Regions from separate parts of the Homo sapiens genome. Here region 2 is linked to region 1. Evidence: fine-mapped expression QTL. Tissue or cell type: whole blood. Region 1 holds a variant in brackets; the other region holds the start of a gene. All regions are shown on one strand. Distances are between the middles of the regions.

Region 1 (8,106 bases):
GAGGTAGTTGCAGAATGAGAGTGTTTTAAATTCTACTGCCAGTGAAATGGTTTTTCAAAGTTGAAGGAAATAAGGACCATTACAAAAAGTTTCTCATCAAGTTCCTTCCTTTCCTGGCCCTTTCTTTCCCTCTGTCCCTCACAAATCAATAGCTATTTCCTGAATCCTTAATCTACCACTTGGTTCTGACTGTAATTTTCATGGGCTTGAAAGAGGGCTTTATTAGAGTTTCTTAAATAAACATTCTAATTCCAAGATGGAAACCCCCAAACTATTTATTTGATTTTTTTTAACAGGCCTGTGAACAGCTTTCCCTACAAAATGTTTCTAAAATATTTAGATTTCAAGAAAAGTCACTGATAGCCTTAACTTGGATACCTAAGTGGAAAAGTTCTGCTAAGTGTACTCAGCCTGCTTAATGATGGGGAAGAAGCAAGCTTTGTGTTTTCTCTGTAAACAGAGAATCTTTTCCATTTGGCTAAGTAGTTGGAATTTGTAGACTCTTTTTAACTGACTGAAGCACATATAAAGAGCAATAGGCAGGCTCTTGTTCTCAATAATGGAAGCTATCAATGAAAGAATCCTCCACCCCACACCCTACCTCCACATTTCAGTACCATCAACTTGCTGAAAAGGAACTTCCCAGCCATTACTGCAAGGAACATGGTTTCTAACGTTCATGTTATATATAAGTGTTGCCATGGTGATTTCTATTTTTTATCTATTTGCAAATGTCCCCTATGATGGTATAGGTCATGCACTATGCAATGGCGCCATGTCTGAGGGGGTGCTATTCACATCATGGGTTTGTATAGTTATCACGACAAATGTCTGTCATAAGGCAATGAAGAGCCTCCTAACAAAATCAGCATACTGCAACAATTTTCCAATAGATGGCAGAGGTGCCTTTTAATAAGTGACATAAAGGTGACTTGAGGTCATACAGACTAGAGGCCATTCCGTCTAGACACCCTGACCTAGAGCAATGTCAAGAGCAGGTGGGCCTCATGACAATGGGTGGGGGTGCACCAGGCTCTTCTAAATAACTAGATATGTTTCACATGTTGTAAACATAGTCCCAACACAAGTCACTTAAATAAAGAGAACATTCACTTGTTTGTCAGTTCTCAATATCCTTTTTGTTTCTCCCCAACACATTTTCTCAGAAGCTCTTTATGGTGAAGGTTTAGGGAAAAGCAGAGATGTAAAGTTTTAGGAAAAGTATGTAAGGTGACCCCTCCTTTCTGCATTTAAACAATTTCAAAGGTAGATTTTCTTAGATTGATTACAACTTTCTAAAAGGTTTCTTTGGTTATAAAATATAAATACTTGAAATATGTTTCTTGGGAAAGATTCATGAACCTGCAATATATTTTTGTGTTAGTGTTGACCTAGACAAAATGGGCTAAAAGCAATGGACGTTTTGTCCATTACTGAGATATTTCAAAAGCTCTTTCTAGTAGCTTGAAAACCGTATCTTTTCTTTGTAGTTTTATCTAACATCATATCTTTTCACTGACAATGAAGAATATAGCTGATCACATGACATTCGTAAACTAAAAATAAAATCCTAAGCCCCTCATCCAACTGAATGGACCCCCTATTGGCCACGGGGACCCCAGAAAACCTGACAAACTGAATTCCCAGCCATGATAGGAAAGAAGGTTGGACACGCTTCGTTATGCGCCCTCCCTTTTGGAGTTTCGGCACAACTGACTAGCATTAATGTTAAAACAGAGATCATAAGACTCACAGAACAAACTTTTTGTGGCAATAAGACACCAAATTATAAACAAGACCCAAGGCCATGCCAGACTAGTGTTAAGTCACACCCTACAAATCACAAAATCTAATTAAAAGGTTTTTAAAAATTAATCCAATATAATGTGGCTTGTTTTCCAACCTGACTGTGATGTAGCATCACAGCACAGATAACAGACGTCCCCAGTCTCAACTTAAGCATTCCTTTGTACTGACTTCAAGTCATTAGACAAAGCTTAACTCTTTCAACCAATTGCCAACCAAAGAATCCCTAAAACCCAACTCTGACTTCTAAGTCCCTCCTTTGAGACGGTCTACCTTTTCAAACTGAACCAATGTATGCCTTTCATCTGTTGATTTATGATTTTATAATTCCTGTCTTTCTGAAATGCACAAAACCAATCTGTAACCAGATTGCTCAAAATAAACCTCTTTTTATTTTATTCTTATTGGCTCAAAATAAATCTCTTTAAAATATTTTACAGAGTTTCCTTTTTCTGTTAACACGTTTTAGAAACTAAGTTAGTTAATATAATCTGCAACCTACAACACCAAGTTCTAACTTTTATAAAAGTGAAAACACTAACAAATAAAATACTTTATCAGAAGAAGTCCAAACTCAGCACTGCAAAATATTCTGAGTAATTCTTGTGATAAATTTTTCTTTTGCTATCCACATGAATTTCTTTTATTTCAAACTGGCAAATATCTCCTCTAAATATTATCATTTTTATTTCTAATTTACCTTTATTGCTAAATAATAATGTTAATAGACTTGGACTCTTGTAAGTCTGAATTCCCAAAGATCTTAACCAACCTCCTAAGGTTATCCTGCTACCATAAGCCTGCCATTTCAGAAGTGCTGGCAATCTGTAAATGATTTATTCCCTGTCTGAAGAGGAACAGAATTGAAATAACCAATGGATAAAGTCATTTAATGTAATGTAACCAACAGGGTTCAAGGATGCATAGTGACAATGAGGAACCAGCTGCACACTCTCCAGAAGTGTCTGCTGCTTACTGTGCTCGTATGCTTCAATATGCCATGAAAATGAACGTCACCAAAGGGACTCAGGACATAACTGGAAGCTGTTGGCCACTGCTATGGACATGTGAAGCCCAAACAAGAATGATCTATGATCAGCAAAGATAGAACCATACTAGGTGCAATTAATGTGTAGGAGAACCAACGCTTTCTCAGGGGTGATTGCACTCATTTATTTATTAGTCACTATAATTTAATCATTTCACTAAGATTGAGCATAAATACGAAACATTATGTTATTTCCATTGTCTTTTTTCAAAATAATACCCAAATATAATAAAGTTTTAGATTGCTAATAACTTGATAAGAATATCTTTCTGTATTATGTTAATCTAACCAAACTATTCCATGCCCTAACAATATCACTTCACAACCATCAATGGCGCCCAAATCTACTGTATTGAAACATGGTTTATCATACACTTATCTATTGCCCGCCAGACATCATCATTTGCATGCTTTTCCAAAAGTGAATATTTTAGATAATCAAAAAACTGTGCTTGTTACGCTAGTATTCCTTGCTAATTTCTAAAAACATTCAGCCATATCATGTTCCTTCTGATGCTCCAGGCTTACAAATAACCCACCACTTAATGAAATGTCTTGTTTGGCCTAATTCCATATAGTAATTATACAGCCGTGCACTAAAATTTGTTTTCTTTAGAGCTACCAACTTTTTTTCAAAGGAAGTTTTCTCCCATTTTTACTAATACTTGCTTTCTTATTCAGATTTTATAGTG[A/G]TAGTACCACAAATTATGTACTCAAGTTTTCCACATTTGGGAAACCTATAAGAATAGATACATCTAGAGGCAATGGATTTGTAATTCTGGAAAACCATAGCATTTCCTCTGCCAGGTAAATAGCTTTATACACCTCTTAGTTTATGATACTACATTTTAAAAGTTCTGAATTTATTTACTTTTATTTTCATTTTAACATTCAGTTTATTATTTTTCCAACTATAAGCATAATACATGCTTCTTGTGAAAAAGTATGAAAGTAGAAAGAACCAAGAAAGCAGAGCCTCATCACAAGGACAATGTGGTATGTTAATATATTGCCTTAATTTTCTTACACACACTTTGCAGATTTGTCATAAAATTATAAATGTATGCATGTTACTCTCTTTTGATCACCCCTTAACAACATTTTATTTATTTATTTATTTATTTATTTATTTATTTTGAGGCAGAGTCTTCCACTGTTGCCCAGGCTGAAGTGCAGTGGCACGATCTTGGCTCACTGCAACCTCCACCTCCTGGGTTCAAGCGATTCTCCTGCCTCAGTCTCCCAAGTAGCTGAGATTACAGGTGCTCACCATTGCACCCAGCTAATTTTTATATTTTTAGTAGAGACAGGGTTTTGCCATGTTAGCCAGGCTGGTCTTGAACTCCTGACCTTAGGTGATTTGCCCACCCTGGCCGCTCAAAGTGCTGGGATTACAGGTGTGAGCCACCGCACCCAGCCTACAACATTTTTTTAATAGTTACACAATATTTTAGGGTTAGGATGTATTAATGAAATATTTTAACCATTCCTTTATGAGAATTTGTTGTTTCCAATTTAAAGCTGTTTTAAATAACACCGTAAGATAGACACACACACACACACACACACACACACACACACACGTACACATATATCTTTAACTGTATCAATATATATCTGTTCCTGAAGCTTTTGAAATAATTCATATTTTCTCCTTAGGGATGATTTCTGGGGGTGACGTTACAAGATCAAAAGTTATGAACAGCTTTAAGGCTCTCATCATACCTGGGAAGCCTATAGCACCCTCTGTGGAATGGACAAACCTGGGCTGAGATCCTGGCCTCCCGCCATGTGCTAGCAGTAAGTCTTTGGCATCTTAGGAACTCTCGTTGCATCTCTGTCTCCTCTATAAACTGAGGACAATATCACCTCTACAATGGACTGTTGAGAAAAAAATCATGTATTTAAGTTCCTTGTTCATCGCTGTGCCCCAGGCCTAAAAGGACACCTGTTTATGTTTGATGCACAATAATACATTGGATGAATGAACAAATGTGCTTAGTAGTGTATGTTGCACATTAAAATCCAATAAATAGCAACTTCCTTGAAGGTAGGCAGTAAAATGCTTTCCAAAAATGTTATACTGATTTACATTCCTACTGTATGAGAGGGACTGTTTCACTATTATTTTAATAACACTGAACATTAGTTTTTAAATTTTTGCTAATATTTTAGGTTAAAATGTTCTGTTTAATTTACATTCTTTGAATGGTTAATGAAATTGAACCTATTTCAGCCAGGCGTGGTGGCTCATGCCTGTAATCCAAGCTCTTTGGGAAGCCGAGGTGGGTGGATCACCTGAGGTCAGGAGTTCAAGACCAGCCTGGCCAACATGGTGAAACCCCATCTCTATTAAAAATTCCAAAAATTAGACGGGTGGGGCGGCGGGCACCTGTAATCCCAGCTACTCAGGAGGCTGAGGCAGGAGAATGGCTTGAACCCAGAAGGCGGAGGTTGCAGTGAGCCAAGATCACACCACTGCACTCCAGCCTGGGCAACAAAAGCGAAAATCCAGCTCAAAAAAAAAAAAAGAAACAAAGAAATTGAACCTATTTCCAACTGTTTTTTAACCGTTATATTGTTTTGTCTTTTGTCTACTTATTTGGGGTACTTAAATGTATGAGCTCTTTATATATAAAATATTTTGTTTCTTATATTTATTAGGCAAATTTTATATGTGCTTGCTTTTTAACTTTGATGTATTAGAAATTTTGTTTGTTTTAACACATAAAAGTTTAAATTCTTATAATGTATCAATCTTTTCTTTTATTTCTGTACTTTTTAAGCTTAAAGTCCTTCCAAATCAACAGAGTATATAAAAATTGACTTTTCTTGTACTCTTTTGGGATATGAGTAGATGGAATGAAATAAGGGCTCTAAATGGATTTTTCCTCTCCATCAATGATTGTGTGGCTCATGATGCAGTTTGCCTGTATGGGATCTGTCCTCCCCTTCTCCCTAACTATTAGGCTTTGATTTTGTTCAGGGAATTATTTAAAGACACTAGACTTTCCCAGATTCTCTTGCAACTAAGGCTGCCCATATCACAAAATTCTGGTCAGTGACAAATAAGTGAAAGTCATTGGATGGAGCTTCCTGGACATGAGCAGCCTCAGGCAGCAGGTGCCTGTTTCCTTCCAGAAATGTGCACGAGATGCTGGAGGTGAGGCAGCCATTTTGCATGATGACTAAAGCTGCCCACTAAGAATGGCTGTGCAGAATGATGGAAGGAAGCCCTGAAGGCATCCTGGAGCTTCCACAGCAGCCCTCCCTGCCTATTTTTAGAATCTTTAAGGTGCGGTGGTGTGGGAGAGGTGAGGCTTGGGGTGTGGCAAGGAACAGACTATTTGGTTAAGCCATTGGAAGTTAGGCTGCTATTACCTGCAGTTGTTAATTTACTAACACAAATGTCCAATACTGTTGACTGAAGAATTCTTCCCTCTACCTACATTAAATGATTACATTGTATAGAATATGATTCTGGTTTAATCTGTTTGCTTTTCTTCATCTGTTTAATTTAGAAGTAGTATAACATGATTTCATTATTAGAACTTTTACTTAATTTGAATAGATAGTGTCATTAATTTTCTCTCACTTCTCTACTTTTTGAAACTTTTGTTCTTCTTGGTTGTCTATCCTTTCAGATAAACTTTGGAATCATATATATGTTTTTTAAAGCCTCTGTGATTTTGTTTGGAATTTCATTGAACCTACTCATTAATATGAGAACACCCCTTTAAGGTATTCCTATTGCACACTCAGAAACAGATTAATAACTATCTATTTTCAAGTCTTCTTTTACTTTCACAGAAAAATGTACTATCTTGTTCATAAAGTTCTCGAACATTTCCTGAGCATTTTACCTTCTTTTGCTATTGTAAAAGAGATCTATTTAGCCATTATTTTTCTAAATGGATTATTCCTAGGGCTTGCTTCTTAGATCGAGTTAGGTAAATACTAATAGATAATAGCTGGCCAGTTGGTCTGAATACCATCAGTCTTATCTCTGTTTCATAATAACTAACTTTCGTTTTGTAGAACATCTTCAACTACCTTAGAATTCAATGTAAAAACACAAAGCCAATTACAATTAACTGTGGAATCACACATAGGCTAACTGCTACGGAAGTTCCAGAGCAGGGAGATTAATATACTGCTTGTGACCTTCATCACCTGGCCCAGATAACTCCTCCAGCCATCTGACGTAATCTCTTCACTTCCCTCACCTAGACTTCATTCTAAAGGCTCTTCCCATGTGTCCCCTCTCTCAGGCCAGCTCAGCTCTGCTCCCACCTCAGCAGCACTGTCAGCTCTTGGCTCAGTCAGAACTTGCCATACGTCAGTAAAATTAGGAAACCATTGAGGGTTATGGGAGCAGAGACGGGGGTGTTAAAAGGGGCCTGAGTAGGTAGTGACAGGAAACAACTGGCTGAAGTGGGCTCCTTTTATGAGATGACTGCAGCTCTAAATCATGTGTATGCTCTTTTCACATGTACATACATTATTAGTGGGATAGTCGAGTGTGGTGCAGAAGCCTCTTCAGGTGTTTCATGTGTATACCCCATTTTCCAACTAAATGGTAAGTTAATTGAAGAGACGAATACAGATTAAATTCTTTATAATGCACTCAAAAGAGCTAATTGAGATTCTTGCAATATGGTAAATTGTTGGTATACATGGTATTAACACTCTCAAAAGGTTGTAATAATTTTTTTCTCTATCAGTTGAGCTATAATAGACGTGTTTCTAAACCCTGTACATTTTTCTAAAGAACAGAATAAAGTGATCAAGCAAGCTTAGAATCATTCAAAGCTGTTTGAAATAATCCTAAGGTTTTGCTTCATATACTGAAAATTGAGAATGGATTCTGAAAATGATGTACTATCAGAATAAATCAATTCATAATGCAATCGTGGAGACTAACAGGACAATATGTCAAAGCAAGACAAATCCATACTAATACACAGTTTAGAATGTGTATTTCACCTCTTAATGGCTGAAGAAAGTGTATGCATTTGTTCATACACAAAGCACAAGGAAAATGGAATAGATTGAGGTGACAGTGTTTTTCCTGTCATTAATTCATGTCACTAAAAGCTCTAAATATCACAGATATATTTCTATATTCCAGATATACGAGTGAAAACACTGAAACTCTTTCTTCCCATCCTTCCACGCATCACTTATTAGGCAATGGTTGGTGAAAGCTAACATTTCTATTATATGGATTAAATGTTTGTGTCCCCTCCAAA
Region 2 (8,106 bases), 170 kb after region 1:
CCACCAATTTAAATATTAATCTCATCCAAAACCACCTTCACAGAAGTATCCAGAATAATGCTTGATCAACTATCTGGGCACTGTGGCACAGCCAAGTTGACACATGAAGTTAACCATCACAAAAACTATGCTTGAGAAAGTTTCCTGCCATGCTGAGGTCACACAGCAGTGAGAGGCAGGGCTGGGATTTAACCAAGGTCTTTGGTTCAAACACTTGCTATAGTCCACAATAGTAAATCAGAGAAAGGTATATGTTATTTGCGGAGAGTCACATATTGATTAGATGACATATTCATGGGGCCTTCATTTATTCTTCAGAAAGTCTTTATGGAGTGCTATTGTGGTCCATGCTGTACTAGACTAGGATCTCTACCCCTGGAGAGTGAGCAAGTGACTTTTGTGAAGCCTGCTTCTTATCATGATAGGCTGGGCCTTGGAAGTATATAGTGAGCTTTGGAAGCCAGGTCAACCATAATGTGCTATTTGAGAATCTTTCATCAAGCAGGTACAATTTTCCAGATGAGTAGTGTGCTACAGAGGGCCTCACTGTATGTTCCGGGAACATTCCTAGAATATGCAGGTGAAGAAGGATGAAACCCCTTTCTTGGGAATCTTGAGAATAGGAGAGACTCCCACATTAGGACCCTGTGAGTGATAGGGCTGGGGGTAGGGAGTGAATCAGATGATCTTCGAGTGGGCCCTACTACTTCATGGACTCTTCAGGGCTTGCCAACCTCAAAAACAGCTCCTCAGCACTGACAGCCACGTATTTTATGAATTTCACTTGCTCCTCATCCCAATAGAACCCAATTAAGAATGCTTGGGGGCCAGGCGCAATGGCTCACACCTGTAATCCCAGCGCTTCGGCCTCTCGAGTTGAGAGAATTGCTTGAGACCAGGAATTTGAGATTAGCTTGGGAAACATAGCAAGACCACATCGCTACAAAAAAAAAAAAAAAAAAAAAAAAAAAAAAGGTTAGCAGGGCCTAGTGGCATGCACCTGTAGTCCCAGCTACTGGGAAGGCTGAGGTGGGAAAATCCCTTGAGCCCAGGAGTTCGAAGCTGTAGTGAGCTATCATCGTGCCACTGCACTCCAGCCTAGGTGACAGAGAGAGACCCTGCCTCCAAAACACTTGGGCAAGGATGGAGAGACTCCCCTCTCCCAGACCTAGAATGCTTGCTCCTCAGCCTCACTTCCCCTGTTTCTGTCCTCATGATGTCCCCAACCTGCCACCTCTGAGTCTCTGGCCCTATCTTTTTTTGTGTTTTTATTTATTTATTTATTTATTTATTTATTTATTTATTTATTTATTTTTTTGAGACGGAGTCTCGCTCTGTCGCCCAGGCTGGAGTGCAGTGGCGCAATCTCGGCTCACTGCAAGCTCCGCCTCCTAGGTTCACGCCATTCTCCTGCCTCAGCCTCCGAAGTAGCTGGGACTACAGGCGCCCACCACCACGCCTGGCTAATTTTTTGTATTTTTTAGTGGAGACGGGGTTTAACCGTGTTAGCCAGGATGGTCTCGATCTCCTGACCTCGTGGTCCGCCCGCCTCGGTCTCCCAAAGTGCTGGGAATACAGGCGTGAGCCACCGCGCCTGGCCAAATCTGATCTTCTCTTAAAGAGAGTTTGTGGAAGGCATCCTCTGTCTTCTGTATTACAATCTCACTGGTCAGAACTTGGTCTCATAGCAATTGTGAGCTACCAGGGAGTCTGGGATGGTGAATATTGTAGATTTCTAACTTCTTTAGTTGAGAAAGGCAAGGGAGAATGGGTTTGTCAATGGCTTCTGGAAACCTATTTGCAGGGTCTGCTGAAGAACAGAGCTCACCTTGCCAGTGGAGCCTTGATATGAGAGAGGGAATGGAAGGAGGTAAAAGTGGGGTATTATGCCAGGGAGAGCAATCCCACAGTGACCAAACAGCAGCTCCCTGCTGCAGGGCCCTCGGTGGCTTGGGTCAAAACAGCGTGGCCTCTACCGAGAGGCCCAGCCCTAAGACAGCTCCTTCTGGCAATCAGCTCTAACCAGCTGCTGCCAAAGAGGTAAACACATTCCAAGTCCTTGAGTCCCTGCTGCACTGTAACTGTGGTTAAAACACAACCCCGCCTCTACCAGTTTGGGCTAATGGAAAGTTCACTATAGTTGTGTTTTAATGATGATTTGCAATTATCCGTGCCCCCTCCCATTCATGGTGAGATGAATACCTAAACACTTATGTTGTCTAACCATATAAGTATTTTGCATCTCACGTGTATCATTTTAAGTTCATTTCATTCTCCAATCCTTGGGAACCATGAAGGATAACACATTACATTCTCTTTTTTTTTTTTTTTTCCTCTGGAAGATCATGCATTACATTCTCTTTTTTTCTCTGGAAGGGTGGCCCTTAAACCAAGCCATTTCCCTAAGCCCCTTTGGTGAGGTGGAGAAACAGACAACCACTAACACAGAACAACCACTGAACACCCAGAAAACTGTATACAGGTCATCACCCAGTGGGGGCACCATTTGCTTGCAGAGGGAGCTGGGGAAAATAGGAAACAGAGAAGATCAAATACTCCCCGTGAGGGTGTTGCCAATCCCAGAGAGGACAATTGCTCTTGACCAAAGCAATCTCTAGTTCAGTCAAGGAGACAGACCACAATCACATTTAAAAAAAAAAGAAAAAAAAAAACTAAAAGGAAATTTTAAAAGTATGAATAAGAGCTATTGTAAACTGCTCAAACTATGCATACAAGCAATGAAGTAAGATGAATTGACTGGCACTGAATTGGAAAAGCTATACAGAGGCAGGGAGTGTGGAACATAATTTAATAAAAATAAACTTAAAAAAATATATATACACTCCCAAAAAAGAAATGGAAAAGTTGTTAGGGCGTGGACCAGGACTCCTAATTAGCTGTTCTGTTGTGCCTGATTTCGCTCCTGTCTTGCCCAGCACCCCTTGGGACACACTGTCCAGTGCAGGGACACTTTGGGGAGGGACAGGGGATTCCTTGGCACCGGGACCTTCACCTCCGAGCCGGCCTCAGACCAGGCCATTTGCCCGTAGCCCAGAGGAGGAGCCGGGGAGAAACCCGCTGCCCAGGTGGCCACTTTTGCCTCTTTGACCCTTCCATGTTTCCAAAACAGAAGGGGCCCTGAGAACGCTCCCTGCCAAAGTGGGGAACAGCTACCCTCATTGTACGCCTCGCCCTGCCGGTGGCGCTCTCCCCCCGCCTGCGTTCGGTCTGAAAGTGTGAAAATTACAAATCCCAAGAAACTGCAATCAGAAGTCTACCTAGGGAAAATTCAGAGTAACCTTGCCATAAATATCCCGCTCCAAGACGCCTGACGTCAGAGCGGGGCGGGCGGACGGGCGCGAGGCCGGGCCTGGAGGGGCGGCAGCCGCGGCTTCCCGGGGATAGCGCGGAGCACGCAGCAGCGAGCGGAGCGCGGGCGGCGGCGCCGTACCTCGGGCTGCGGGAGCGCGGGCGCCCTGGGGTCCTCGGAGTAAGTGCGGCCGGCCCTGGCGCTCCCCGTCTTGGGGCCCGGGCCGCGGGGAGCCCTCTCCGCTGGGCTCCCACACTTCTCTCCCTCTGCTTTCTTTAGCATGCCCCGCGGGGCTTGGGGAGGCAGCAGCTCCGCAGGCTGGCGGTTTTGTTTCTCCAAAGTGTTTGCAGGAGCCGCCGACCCCGGAGTGGGCTCCCAGGGCCTGTGTGTGTGTGAGTTGTGTGTGTGTATGAGTGTGATTGCGTGTGTCTGTACTGGCACATCTGGACATAGGAAATGTCTTTGGAAAACTTTTTAAAAATGTTTTTTGCGGCTTTGAAACCTGACCCCTGGTTGTCACAAGTGGACAAACACAGAAGATACCCCGCAAAACTGACAACTTTTTGGTGGTGGCTTTTCCGGGTTCGGCTTGAACCTTCACTTGGCTGGGCTGAAGTCTTCACAAGCCCCCAGCTCCCACTTGCAGGCCTGGCCTCTGGCCAGTGGGCAGGGCAGCCGTAAGGTTCTTGTTCTCAGTGGCAGTGGGACCCTGGGCGGGGGAAGGAGCATCTCAGGAAAGGGGTCCCCGGACTCTGGGGCTCTCAGCACCTGCGGTCGCAAACCAACCTCATGCCCTGACTTTACCAGGCGTCGGGACTCTGACTTAACCGGGGAATGAGGGACTTGGTCTGGCGGCAGGTAATTTTGTGAAGAGGATGAGAAGGAAGAGGGGGAGGTGGTGGTGATGGCCAGGACGCTGTGGCCCTGTGTCCAGCCGTAGCTTGGGAGTGGGATGGTTGGTTCTGCCACATGGCCACGGTGAGGTACGTGCCAGGTTCTCCAGGAGTGCCGCGTGTGGTGCCCCAAACAAGATGCAAGCTCCTAACATAAAGAGACGTGTCTGAGCTGTGGGGTGGAGGAAGGGGGGCGGTGGGGGAGAGGGAGATTTTTATCAAAATTGAACACAGATTGCTGAGATCTGGGCTTGATTTAACTCTTCTCTCTCTGCCTCGGCCACTTCTCCACAGTTTTGGAGTGGATTTGGAACGTTTCTCGGAGGGTTAGAGGAAAATCACACCTCTCCGGAAAAGAGTCCCCATAGGTTTTCCCTTGATGCCCACGTGGGAATGAAAGCAGCTTCCCATCTTTAAAAAGTTCAAAGTCTTGTGTTTTCCCCCTTCTGAGTTTGGTGTTAGTTTCCTGAGTTTCTTTGCAAAGCCAGCTGAAGCGGGGGATGGATTTTCCCTAGGGCCTAGGGCGGAAAGTGTGCTCCACGGAGAGTAGGGGAAAAAAGCAGCAGTGAGGCTGTATCGATCCATCATCCCTGAGTAGCACAGTGCCAGGCACTGCCTGTCAATAGCTGGGTTCCACAAACGAGTGACCACAGACAGACTGAATTTTCAGCTTTGAGCTAGCCAGGTCTCTGGTTTTGTATTTTGCAGTAGAGCCAACCTACAATGTCTGGGTGGGAGGAAGATTACTGGACTCTCCCTCTGTCCTAGAAAAATGAGAAAATGAAGGGACAGGGAGGAAATCTGGATGTAAAAACAGACCCACAGGAAGTTAAGATTCAGGAAGGATTTTAGAAATTATATAAATTGAACCCCAGGGAAGCTCCATAAAAGATGGAGCAGGCAGCAATGTCAGAAACAGACTCATTTAACTTCAGGAGTACGTTGTCAACTGAAGTGTAATGAAGGAGGAGGAAATCATCCCATAGGCAATGTAAACAAGGGTGCATGTAAACAGGAGTGACTGGTCCCCATGAGATGCACATGCCTATGTGTTTTTACACATACATGACTGTGTGGTGATGGCCATGGCCTTAGACATGGGAGGATAAATGGTCTATTTCTTCATCTGTGCTGGGAACTCCATCTAACCCCCATTTCTTCCTTTATGCAAACAACTGTGCTATTATTGTCTTGCTCCCTGGTAGTTGCAAACTCTGGCTCCTAACTCCCAGCTGAGTTTTCAGAGCTTTTCCTCCAGCGCCTCGGATGCTGAGGGAATACTCGTGCCCCCATCAGGACAAAAAGAGGAGAGAACATTCTCCTGGGCATTAGAACTTAGAGAGTCAGGGGCTCAAGAAGGCGGAGGCTGTGCAGGCAAGACCAATAGGAAGGCCTGTAAATGATTTTGTTTTTGGTGAGCGTGGAGGAAGTTGAAATACTACTGCTTGCTGTGAGAACATGTTCTCTCCCCAGTCTTCTTTCCCGACTGTCTCCAAAGTTTTTGATGCAAAACAGATTAAACTCCCCATTACTAAAGAGCCTTGGATCCAGGTGTAAAGAATGAAGATAAAGGGTAAGTACAGGCAGTAGAGAAAGCATAGAGATAATGAAAGATGAGGCTTTCTTATTTGATTTTACTAGAGCCAATGGAAGTAACAAGTTTAAATGTTCTCATTCATTTCCATTATTTAAACATAGAAGACTACCCAGGGACAGAAGGGACCCCTCGGAACAGGATTCCCAGAAATACTCTTATCCCAGCATACAACTCCTCAGGGACAGGTGAGGGGCAAGAACTGGGTTTTCAACTCTTTCTACATGTGGGGTTTCTGGGAGTGCTGCATGTGGGATCAGTGGAGTCCTGATGCTTCTGGGCTTGTACTAGGAGACATTTCACTATGGCCGGGATGAATTCCCAGGCCATGGATGCCTAGGCTGACATTGAAGCCTTCTCATGGCTCATTCTATCAGTTCAATCTTCTGGCCAGCTCTTTGGTCATCTTTGAGATTAGATTAAGTAGATGGGATGCATTCCAAGACATCCTTGAAGGTCCAGAGGGCAAACACAGCTGGCAGAAAGAACAAGTTGAAGGATATCCTTGGCTTTGATAGCGGATGACCCTCTAGATCTCAACAGCCAGAGACTCTGTCAAGGATCCTGTGTCATTCAGCCCTAGACTTCAGAGGCAGCCCGACAACAATGGAAAGAGTGCAGATTTCTGATCAGCTGCCTGGAGAGAGAGAACTGTGACCTAAATACGAATTAGTAACCTGGGCTACATGACTTATTCCTTCTGAGCTTCAGCTTCCTCATCTGTAAAATAAGGATAGTATTTCCCTCCCCAGGTCATTATGAAAACATTTATGCACAAGAACTAAGAACAGAGCTCAGAATGTTATAAGACCCTTCATAAAGGGAGTGCTGTATTTTTATTTTTCAGTTTTTCAGCCATCACAAGCCAGTATTGCTTGGAAAGAACCTCTCCCCAAATCTAGCTACATATTTTCCATGATTGAAGGCTAGTGGGTGGAGTTTCTAGGGCTCTGATCATCCTTACTTCCTTCCTCTAGAAAAGGTGACCAATGAAGATATTCCATGAGCATCCCTGGTCCATTATCCTGAAGTGTGGGAGAAGAAACCAGGGATCCTGGATGTCTGGCCTAGAAATCACTCTTGTGTTTGTGCTCTTTAGGGAGGGAGAAGGACAGAAGAGCAGGTTGTATAAGTATGGTGGGGAGGGGAAAGGTAGGGAGGTGGGGGTAGGGCAGGAGGGTCAAGGACCAATTGGATCTTGAAGGACAAGCCTGAGTCAGAGAGCGGGTAGGCAGCCACTCCTTGTCAAGGGTGCTCAGGTCAGAGTAATGGGGGAATCTGATGGGTTGTAAAGAATGAAAGCTTTAGTCATTGCAAACATCTCCAGTGGGTATGGGGTGGGAGGCTGCCCCCTGAACCCTGATTGATACATTATCCAAGGGAGTGACTACTCCAAAGGAACAAAGGAACATCTGATGTTAGAGAGCAGCTGCAGGTCCTCTTGGCCCATCTCAAAGCTTGTAAGTTATCCTTCAAGTTGACATTTAAGATTTTGAAGATCACATTTGTTTTTGTTTTGTTCAAGCTCTCTCTTTAACCATGGCCTGGGATGACTTTTAAGCTTTTAAGAGGCTCAACCAGTGGTCAACTTCTCTTGAGATGGCCCAGAGCGGGGGTCAGTGAATTCCTCACTCTTGGCAGCATCTATTTCTCCAACTCTCTCCACATTTTTTGGTTTGTTTTTTGTTTCATTATGAGGTTCTAAAACTGCACAGTCAAGATGCTGTGGGGGGAGGAAGTAAGTGCCTGTTCTTGGAACCTGTGCAGCGTTATGCTAGCACTGGCCAAGACTTATCAGACTATGGTTATTAATAGGTGTTATGGGTTTCTTTCTGGGGTCCCCCTCCAAAAAAAAAAAAAAAAAAAAAACCTGTAAAAAAAAAATGAACTTTAGGCAGTTTGATGTCTCTTTCAATCCTGGCCAAAGAGGAGCTGAATTATTTGTGGTACATCCTATGGTTCCAAGGAAGAGCTTTAGAATCAAGCAGACAGAGATTTGAGTTCTGGCACCACCAGGTCACAAGCTTGCTAACCTCTCTGAGTCTTCTTTATCTGTTAAATGAGAACAATAACTATTCTCATTCCCCAGGGTTGTTCTGAAAATGAAATGGAATGATATAAGGGAAGAAGCTAGCAAACTGCTCAGTAAAATGTTAATGCCATTCCCCTCTCCAGTTCTAAGTCCGTGAAAATACATGGGTTTAGACATTTGTCCACAGGTCAAAGTAAATAAGCCACTTATTCAAGGATTAACAACTGTGCTTGGAGGTCAGATATCTCAGCCTGGAGATGGAGACCCTTTATACAAA

Evidence for each region. PIP is the estimated chance that this variant, and not a neighbour inherited with it, causes the effect.
Region 2: it holds the start of DAAM2, and the variant in region 1 is fine-mapped to the expression of DAAM2 in whole blood (INTERVAL, PIP above 0.99).

Annotation. Positions count from the first base shown.
Region 1 is chr6:39,616,796-39,624,901 of GRCh38, forward strand. All of the region lies in intron 5 of KIF6 (kinesin family member 6), which reads right to left. It also overlaps the pseudogene RNU1-54P. Among named protein-coding and RNA genes, the nearest start is that of KIF6, 100 kb to the right of the region's middle. The variant A/G (reference allele first, on the strand shown) is at 3,547.
Region 2 is chr6:39,788,976-39,797,081 of GRCh38, forward strand. DAAM2 (dishevelled associated activator of morphogenesis 2) reads left to right here and starts at 3,401. Exons shown (of 25, transcript NM_001201427.2): 1 at 3,401-3,490.